Regions from separate parts of the Homo sapiens genome. Here regions 1 and 2 are each linked to region 3. Evidence: fine-mapped expression QTL. A gene starts in region 3. Each other region holds a variant in brackets. All regions are shown on one strand. Distances are from middle to middle.

Region 1 (2,769 bases), 230 kb before region 3:
TGAGTTATAATCTAATTGTTTGGTATATAAGCATGAATAGCCTGCTTCTTAGGATTGTTAGGAAAGGGAGAAAGATGCTTAAAGGGAATGTAGAAGGATACCAAAGACAAATTAAGTCCATCTTATAATTTTACCTACAGCCAGTCCTGGTAAAGTTTTGCATGAGTTGATGAAGTTACCCTATTCTTGGAATTAAAAATATTTGTTTTTAATGACCAATAATGAATCTGTAGACATTGGCTCATTTTATCAACTGTCCCAAGAGAAATTGAAAGACTGCCATGGCAATGATCCCTAAAATCTACTGGAGGTATGAAGCTAAACTAAAGACCTTGCTAAACATATGGTGATTCTTCAAGGCAATCCAGATTCCAAATATTCTGTCATTCCCATGGACAAGTTCTCTTTCTGATTCTGAAAGTATGATTCCTGTGACCAAAAGGTAGGGAAAGGCTAAAGCTGGATTGAGACTTTTTCAGATTTATGGTCATTATCTGGGAGAAATATGGTGCAGCCATTTCTACACTCTGTGAAGTTTCAAGAGATGCAGAAAGGACACTTTCTCCATGAAATTAGTTGGTTTTAAGGGTTTCCTTGATGAGGCAAAATGCAATAAATTTCTTAAATATAATGCATGCTAAGTATAAAAAATAAAAGGATAATTAAGACCCTGTCCCTATCCATAGCCTAAAGGATTTATGAAACTTTCTGATTCAGCTCAACACCTCATGATCTTTAAATTGTGTAGACTAAGCCCGGTAACAAACAATCCCCAAATCTCAATGGCTTAGACAATTGATTTCTTTCTTATGTCACAGTTCACACTGTTGTCCAACAGGAAACCTGCCATGTGGTGATTCAGGGACTCGGGCTGCTTCCCTCTGGTGGTTTCAGCACTTTCTTCTAGCATCTTAAAGTCATCCCCTAGATCCTCAGCGTCTAACTAGAAGACAAGGGAAGAGGGAAATGTGGAGGATCTCATGAAATGTATAGGAGCCAAGCAGGCCTACAAGGAGTGTACATCACTCCTGCTCACATTCCATTTGCCAGAACTCAGTTCCACAGTCCCACTTACCTACAGGGAAGGCTGAAAATGCAGTTTATCTAAATGCCCAAAAGGAAAAAGAAATAGGTTTGATGAACAACATAGCATTGTTTCAGCCACATTCAACACTTGAAAATCCATACTTTGTACTTTCCAGATTAAATTAGACACTAAATGGCCAGGCGCGGTGGCTCATGCCTGTAATCCCAGCACTTTGGGAGGCCGAGGCGGGCGGATCACAAGGTCAGGAGATCGAGACCATCCTGGCTAACACGGTGAAACCCCGTCTCTACTAAAAATACAAAAAAATTAGCCAGGCGTGGTGGCTGGTGCCTGTAGTCCCAGCTACTCGGGAGGCTGAGGCAGGAGAATGGCGTGAACCCGGGAGGCGGAGCTTGCAGTGAGCCAATATCGCACCACTGCACTCCAGCCTGGGCAACAAAGCAAGACTCTGTCTCAAAAAATAAAATAAAATAAAATAAAATAAAATAAAATAAAATAAAATAAAATAAAATAAG[A/T]CACTAAACTAATCAAGCATACCATCTTGAAATAAATATTTTTCTAAAATATTTTTCTAAAAATTCCTGTTACAATGAATTACTATTCTCCAATTTTTACTACCTCCAGTAGATTATACCTCTACTTTCTTTGCCACGTGCCTCCTACTGTGGGCAGCCTATTCTTCCACAATCCATCAACAATGGGTTTAACCATGTGACTTTTTTAAGCCAATGAATGCAGGCAGACAAGAGCAGAGGCTTTAAATCTGTTTACCTGGTTTGGTTTGCTCTCTTGCCATCCTGGGATCCATCATGATGAGGGCAAACCCCAAGTTGTTGCTGCCCCTTCCACCTGGACCTCAGAAAGAAAACACAGGTAACACACCTGAACTTGAAGTCCAGCTTGGCCCAGCCAAGCCAAACCTAGATCAACCAATCCTCATCCAAACGGCAGACCCATGATCATGGATACAAAGATTTATTATTGAGATTGTGAGGTTATTACATGGCAAAAATGAAATATTATCATTCCCATGTTTACATACATTATAACCCAATGCAGCAGGTTCGATAATAGTTGGTTGTCTCACTGAAAGTTTTTGAAAGCAAAGAATTATTCTTCTTTATCCAGTTACTAAAATTCAAAATGATGGGTTTTGTGACCCTCGGTGAGAAAATAGACTGTCCTTTAAAGTAAAATTTTATTTTCTCAACAAGTATCCAAGATTTGACATAGGAAATACAGGCTGAGCATCCATAATCTGAAAATCCAATATCCAAAATTCTCTGAAATCCAAAATTTTTGAGCACTAATATGACTCTCAAAGGAAATGCTCATTGGAGCATCTCAGATTTGGGGTTTTTGGATTAGGGATGCTCAACCAATAAATAATGCAAATATTATAAAATCCAAAATCAAAACAATTTCTGATCCCAATCATTTTGGATAAGGAATACTCAACTTGTAATATAAATGATTTATTAACAAATGTTTCAAAATTTAAATATCTAAATGATTGTTATCTTTCAAAGATCTGGGAAGTTTACATGCTTGTTCCAACTACACTACCATTACTAAAAACATTTTCCATTTTTTGTTGTCATTGCCATTACTTTTAGGGATGCGATATATTTATTATCTCATTTTCAGATAAAATAGATCTATTTTCAGATGAAAAAATGAGATAATAAATGTGTCACATCTCTAAAAGTAATGTCAATGAT
Region 2 (2,769 bases), 87 kb after region 3:
CTGTGTTTTTCAAGGCAGGTATTCTGTTTTCCATTTTTATATATTTTATTTATGAAATAATAAAGTTTCTTAATACAATTGAGGCAATTTAGTTGGTGTTATTTAAGCAGAGTGTAACTCACAGATTTTTAATATGTTATTTTTAAATTGTACATTTCTGACATAGAGTTGATCATGTTTTTAAAGGACCCATTGGTGGTGGAACTTTCAAGGCCTGGACCACTGACCTCAGCCTTGTTCCTGTTTCTTCACAGCATGAAGGAGACTGAAAAAGGACCACTTTCTCCTAAAGTTCTTTTTAATCAGCTTTGTCAGAAGTGGGTGCATCTACATTTAATATAAATAATTATGAGTTACAAAATACTAATGTATTCATCATTTAACATGAATAGTCGTTTTTACTGTAACTTTGCTCTTATTGCCCTGACTATGAAGAGAACTAAAATTTGTTACAGCTCTATGCTTTATGAAAATTATATCTCAGTCCTCAGAAGAAGCAGCTTATCCTCATATATAAGGAAATGGAGACACAGAAATTAAATGGCTCACCTAGTCTGAGTGAAAAGCTGAGAATCAAATGGAGATCTGTCCTGACTTGGATGCCTATGTTGTAATACCATAAAGTGAGAAAACCATAGAGTTGTAAAATCTAGAAAGTACCGTAAGATAACATCTAATCTAGCTTTCTTATTTTAAAAGATGAGCTGTGAGGCAAATAGAGTTTAAGTGAATTTCTCAAGGTATTACAGTATGTTTAAAAACCAAATCCTTATGTGCCTGGAAATAAACACATAAAGGATCTGACTTGACTTTAATGCATTCATGTATTCATTTATATAAAAAATTGAGAGCTTGCTTTTTATGAGGTACTTGCTACAATTCAGGGGTACACAACATATATTGCGTCACAAATGCACCCTGTCCTCATGGAACTCACAAGCTAGTCCAGTCCACAATTACTAAAATATGTAGAAGGAAAATTATTTGAATATGAGCTTGTGTTTTTGTATATCTATAGACTTTAAAATCTCATTTTAATTAAAACTAGTAATGAATGCCATGATATTTTAAATATAGTCCAAAATAGAGGGCTTAGTGTATGTTTCATTTGGTTGGCAAATGATGTTTCTTCAAAGCCTGAGGACCAAAAAAACCTGCAAAATTCTCAGAGGCATGAGTGTCTCACAGAGTTAAAAAGTTTTTAGCACAGCC[A/G]TAATAAAGAATGAAATCATATTCTTTGCGACAACATGGATGCAGCTGGAGGCCATTATTCTAAGTGAATTAATGCAGGAACAGAAAACCAGATACCACATGTTCTCATAAGTGGAAGCTAAACATTGGGTACTCATGGACATAAAGATGGCAACAGTAGAGAGTGGGGATTACTAGAGGTGGGAGAGATTGAGGGAGGAAGGGTTGAAAAACTAACTATTCGGTACTATGCTTAGTACCTGAGTGACGGGATCATTCGTACTCCGGACCTTTGCATCACACAATATACCCAGATAACAAACCTGCACATGTACCCCTTGAATCTAAAATAAAAGTTGAAATTAAAACAAAAAAAGTTACTAGGTCATTGTATGCTTTAGAAATTTGTTTCTGACTTTGCCAGAAATAACTTGTTTTGTATAGTTTTCTTCCTGGTTATAAAGGTTTATTAACATTTTAAAAATTACTATTAAAATAATGGGCACTCATAGATAAAAATTCAAACTCCTCTCTATCTTTACTCCTCAGAAGTAACTATTATCTGATTCTTTCCAAAAGTGATCATACATACACAGACATATGCAAATTTTTTGCAACTTGCTTGATATATTTTATACATCTTTCCATGTTAGCACATGTGTGTATAACTTACTCAGTTTTGTATGAATACACTGTACTTGCGGAAGTACATCTGTAGGATAAATTCTTAGAATAACTAGATCAAACATTATTTGAAGATTTTTATGTATTTTTTGTATTTTTTAGGAGACAGGGTCTCGCTCTGTGCCCAGGCTCAAGTGCAGTGGCCCAATCATAGTCGAATTCCTGGGCTCAAGCATGCCTCCCTGCTCAACCTCCCAAGTAGCTGGGATTACAGGCATGAGCGTCATCCATGCTTGGCTGAAAAGTTTTAAATTGCCTTTTTTTTGTTTGTTTTATGGCGTTTACTTTTAAAAGAAGTATACATTAGACAAATATATTTTTTTAAAATCAAGTAAAGATTTAAGCCACATGTGTTTGGGTTTATTTCTGAACTATATTCTGTTTCATTGATCTACATGTCTTGTCTTTACCCCAAAGCCTACACTGTCTTGATTACTGTAGCTTCATAGTAAGTCTTGCAATTGAGTAGCATAAGTTCTCAAATTTTGGTCATCCTTTTCAAACTATTCTAGGTCCTCTTTTTTTTTTTTGAGACGGAGTTTCGCTCTTGTTGCCCAGGCTGGAGTGCAATGGTATGATTTTGGCTTACCACAGCCTCCACCTCCTGGGTTCAAGCAATTCTCCTGCCTCAGCCTGGGATTACAGGCGCCCGCTACCACACCCGGCTAATTTTGTATTTTTACTAGAGATGGGGTTTCTCCATGTTGGTCAGGCTGGTCTTGAACTCCCAACCTCAGGTGATCTGCCCACCTTGGCCTCCCAAAGTGCCAGGGTTACAGGCGTGAGCCACTGCGCCTGGCCGGTCCTTTGCTTTTTTATGTAAATTATAGAATCAGATTGTCAGTTGGGATTGTTTTGAATGTGTAGATCAATTTGGGGAGAATCAACATCTTA
Region 3 (2,769 bases):
CGGATCACGAGGTCAGGAAATGGAGACCATCCTGGCCAACATGGTGAAACCCTGTCTCTACTAAAAATACAAAAATTAGCTGGGCGTGGTGGTGTGAGCCTGTAGTCCCAGCTACTTGGGAGGCTGAGGCAGGAGAATCGCTTGAACCTGGGAGGCAGAGGTTGCAATGAGCCTAGATAGCGCCACTGCACTCCAACCTGGGCGACAGAGCAAGACTCCGTCTCAAAAAAAAAAAAAAAAAAAAACCGCCTGATCCAGGCCGGGCCTGGTAGCCCACGCCTGTTAATCCCAGCATTTTGGGAGGCTGAGGCTGACGGATCACCTGAGGTTAGGAGTTCCAGACCAGCCTAGCGAAATCCCCTCTCCACTAAAAATACAAAGATTAGATGGACGTGGTGGCACGCGCCTGTAATCCCTGTAATCCCAGCTACCTGGGAGGCTGAGGCAGCAGAATCATTTGAACTGGAAAGGCAGAGGTTGCTGTGAGCCGAGATTGTGCCACTGCATTCCATCCTGGGTGACAGACCCAGACTCCGTCTCAAAAGTAAAAAACAGGCAGGGTGCGGTGGCTTACGCCTGTAATCCCAGCACTTTGGGAGGTTGAGGAGGGCGGATCACGAGGTCAGGAGTTTGAGACTATCCTGGCCAACATGGTGAAACCCTATCTCTACTAAAAATACAAAAATTAGCTGGGCATGGTGGTGCGCGCCTGCAGTCCCAGCTACTCGGGAGGCTGAGGCAGGAGAATCGCTTGAACTCCTGGAGGCGGAGCTTGCAGTGAGCCGGGATCGTGCCACTGCACTCCAGCCTGGAGACAGAGCAAGACTCCGTCTCAAAATAAATAAATAAATAAAGTAAAAAAAAAAAAGGAACACTTGATCCCTGAGAACAAAGTCATCTTCATTTATTTCTCTTTCCAATCACAGGAAAAATAAGTCACAAAACCTTGTACTTTATTACAATGCCACATTGTTCTGTTTTTGAAGTCCTGGAAGAGGTAATAACAGAACCCCGTATCTGAGCCACTTCGCCTAGGTTAGACCCACTCAGCAACTCCCGTGCTGAAGACAGGAGACCGAGCGGCTTGGGCCCCCGGCCAGAATTCTCAAGACGCTCTCGCGAGAGCCTTCCAACCGCCGCGAGCTCTCGTGAACACTAGTTCTCTTCAATCTCAGCACCTCCAAGGGTCAGCACCTCCCCTCCGGCTCCCTCCGCTACCGCGGGCCGGAACTTTTGTCGATAGGAACGGGTTTGCACAGTTGAGTGTTGTCGGCCGGCGTGAAGGAGACTAGGGGGCCATCCTCTTCCTTTCGCCGTCGCCGCCGCGGAGCGGAGTCGAGCCGAGCTGATTTGATCGAGGAGCGCGGTTACCGGACGGGCTGGGTCTATGGTCGCTCCGCGGGCCGCTCCGCCGGCTGGTGCTTTTTTATCAGGGCAAGCTGTGTTCCATGGCAGGGAACTTTTGGCAGAGCTCCCACTAGTAAGCGATCTTCCGTCTTCTCACCTGGGGCCGGTTTTTGGGGGAGCTGTGAGGACGGGGCCTGTGACTCCCCTGGGCCTGGATCCCAGCTCAGTTCCGAGTGCCGGGGTCCTCACGGGAGACCGCAGCGGTCAGAATCAAGATGCGCTTTTCTGAGGCGACTCCCCTCCCCGCCCCCAGCCCCAGTTTCGGGGAGGGAAGGATCTGTGAGGGGGAGGGGTGGGAGAGAGTTTCGTCTCCCGGGAAGGAACGTTTCGGAGTTTAATTTCGGATTCTTGGTTTAGCTAGGCCGCGGGGGGTCGGATAGAGTGGGCACAGGTACGGGAAGTGTGACTCAGCTCAAGACTGTGAGGCTACCTGTTCAGGACAGTTGTGGCGTGCTTTTACCTGGGGTTTCTTCGGGTGATCGGCGTCGTGGTCTTTTGTCATTCACTGTATATCTTGAGTGGATTTAATATTATGAGGAGAGGAGAGAGTCTGGCTTGTTTCTGCCTACTAACCGCTTCTTGCGCGTACTTTATGTCTAGATGGAGTTTTATATTGATAAGGTATAGGGCAGGTGCCCTCTAAATTTATCCATTTCATTAGCCTGTGCTTTATATTTTGTTTTAAAGGCCTATTTTTCCAGTGACTTTGTTTACCTGTTTCTTTAACCTTTTTCATGAATAAGTTCTTGTTTCTGTCAGTGACCATGTGAGAGCTAGAATAATATTAAAAACATTTATCCCTAAATACATTTGTTTAAGCAGGCAGGAAGGTGCGTTATGGGGTAAATTGAACATTTGAGTAGGCTTTCCACTGTATAGTTGAAAGATGAACAGAATTTGACAAGGTATCTTGGTATAATTTTTTATGCTAAGAAAGCATTAGTAAGTAATTTAAATTTCGATTCTGTGAATAGGATCTGTTCCTGATGTTCATTTTTTAGCCCTTTGCAAAGAGAAAAAAAGAAACAATGAACTCAGTAACCTATTTAAGGAAAAGCAGGTTTTCCTCTTGCTATAAAGTGATTCTGTGGAGATGACATGTTAAAGAAGCTTTACCACTGATCATATGTGTGTGTGTGTATATATATGTGTGTGTGTGTATGTATATATATATGTGTGTGTATATATGTTGCATTGTTTTCACACACTGAAATATTGCTTGGGCAAAATTAAAGTATCGAAAGTTTAGGTATTGGAGTTAGAGCTCCTGAAAAAAAAAGTTTAGGTAGTGGAGAAGAGATATTCTGATAAACTCTGAAAGAAGCTGAGAGAATTGACAAGTAGCTGACTGTTGATTTTTCA

The links. PIP is the estimated chance that this variant, and not a neighbour inherited with it, causes the effect.
Region 1: its variant is fine-mapped to the expression of CCNC in whole blood (INTERVAL, PIP above 0.99).
Region 2: its variant is fine-mapped to the expression of CCNC in whole blood (TOPMed, PIP above 0.99).

The regions. Positions count from the first base shown.
Region 1 is chr6:99,798,570-99,801,338 of GRCh38, reverse strand. No RefSeq gene overlaps it. Among named protein-coding and RNA genes, the nearest start is that of PRDM13, 190 kb to the right of the region's middle. The variant A/T (reference allele first, on the strand shown) is at 1,564.
Region 2 is chr6:99,480,301-99,483,069 of GRCh38, reverse strand. USP45 (ubiquitin specific peptidase 45) reads left to right here. Exons shown (of 18, transcript NM_001346022.3): 8 at 187-317. Among named protein-coding and RNA genes, the nearest start is that of USP45, 34 kb to the left of the region's middle. The variant A/G (reference allele first, on the strand shown) is at 1,213.
Region 3 is chr6:99,567,207-99,569,975 of GRCh38, reverse strand. CCNC (cyclin C) reads left to right here and starts at 1,316. Exons shown (of 12, transcript NM_005190.4): 1 at 1,316-1,480. The coding sequence starts at 1,449. It also overlaps the pseudogene TSTD3. RefSeq lists enhancers at 959-1,008, 1,129-1,418, 1,539-1,618.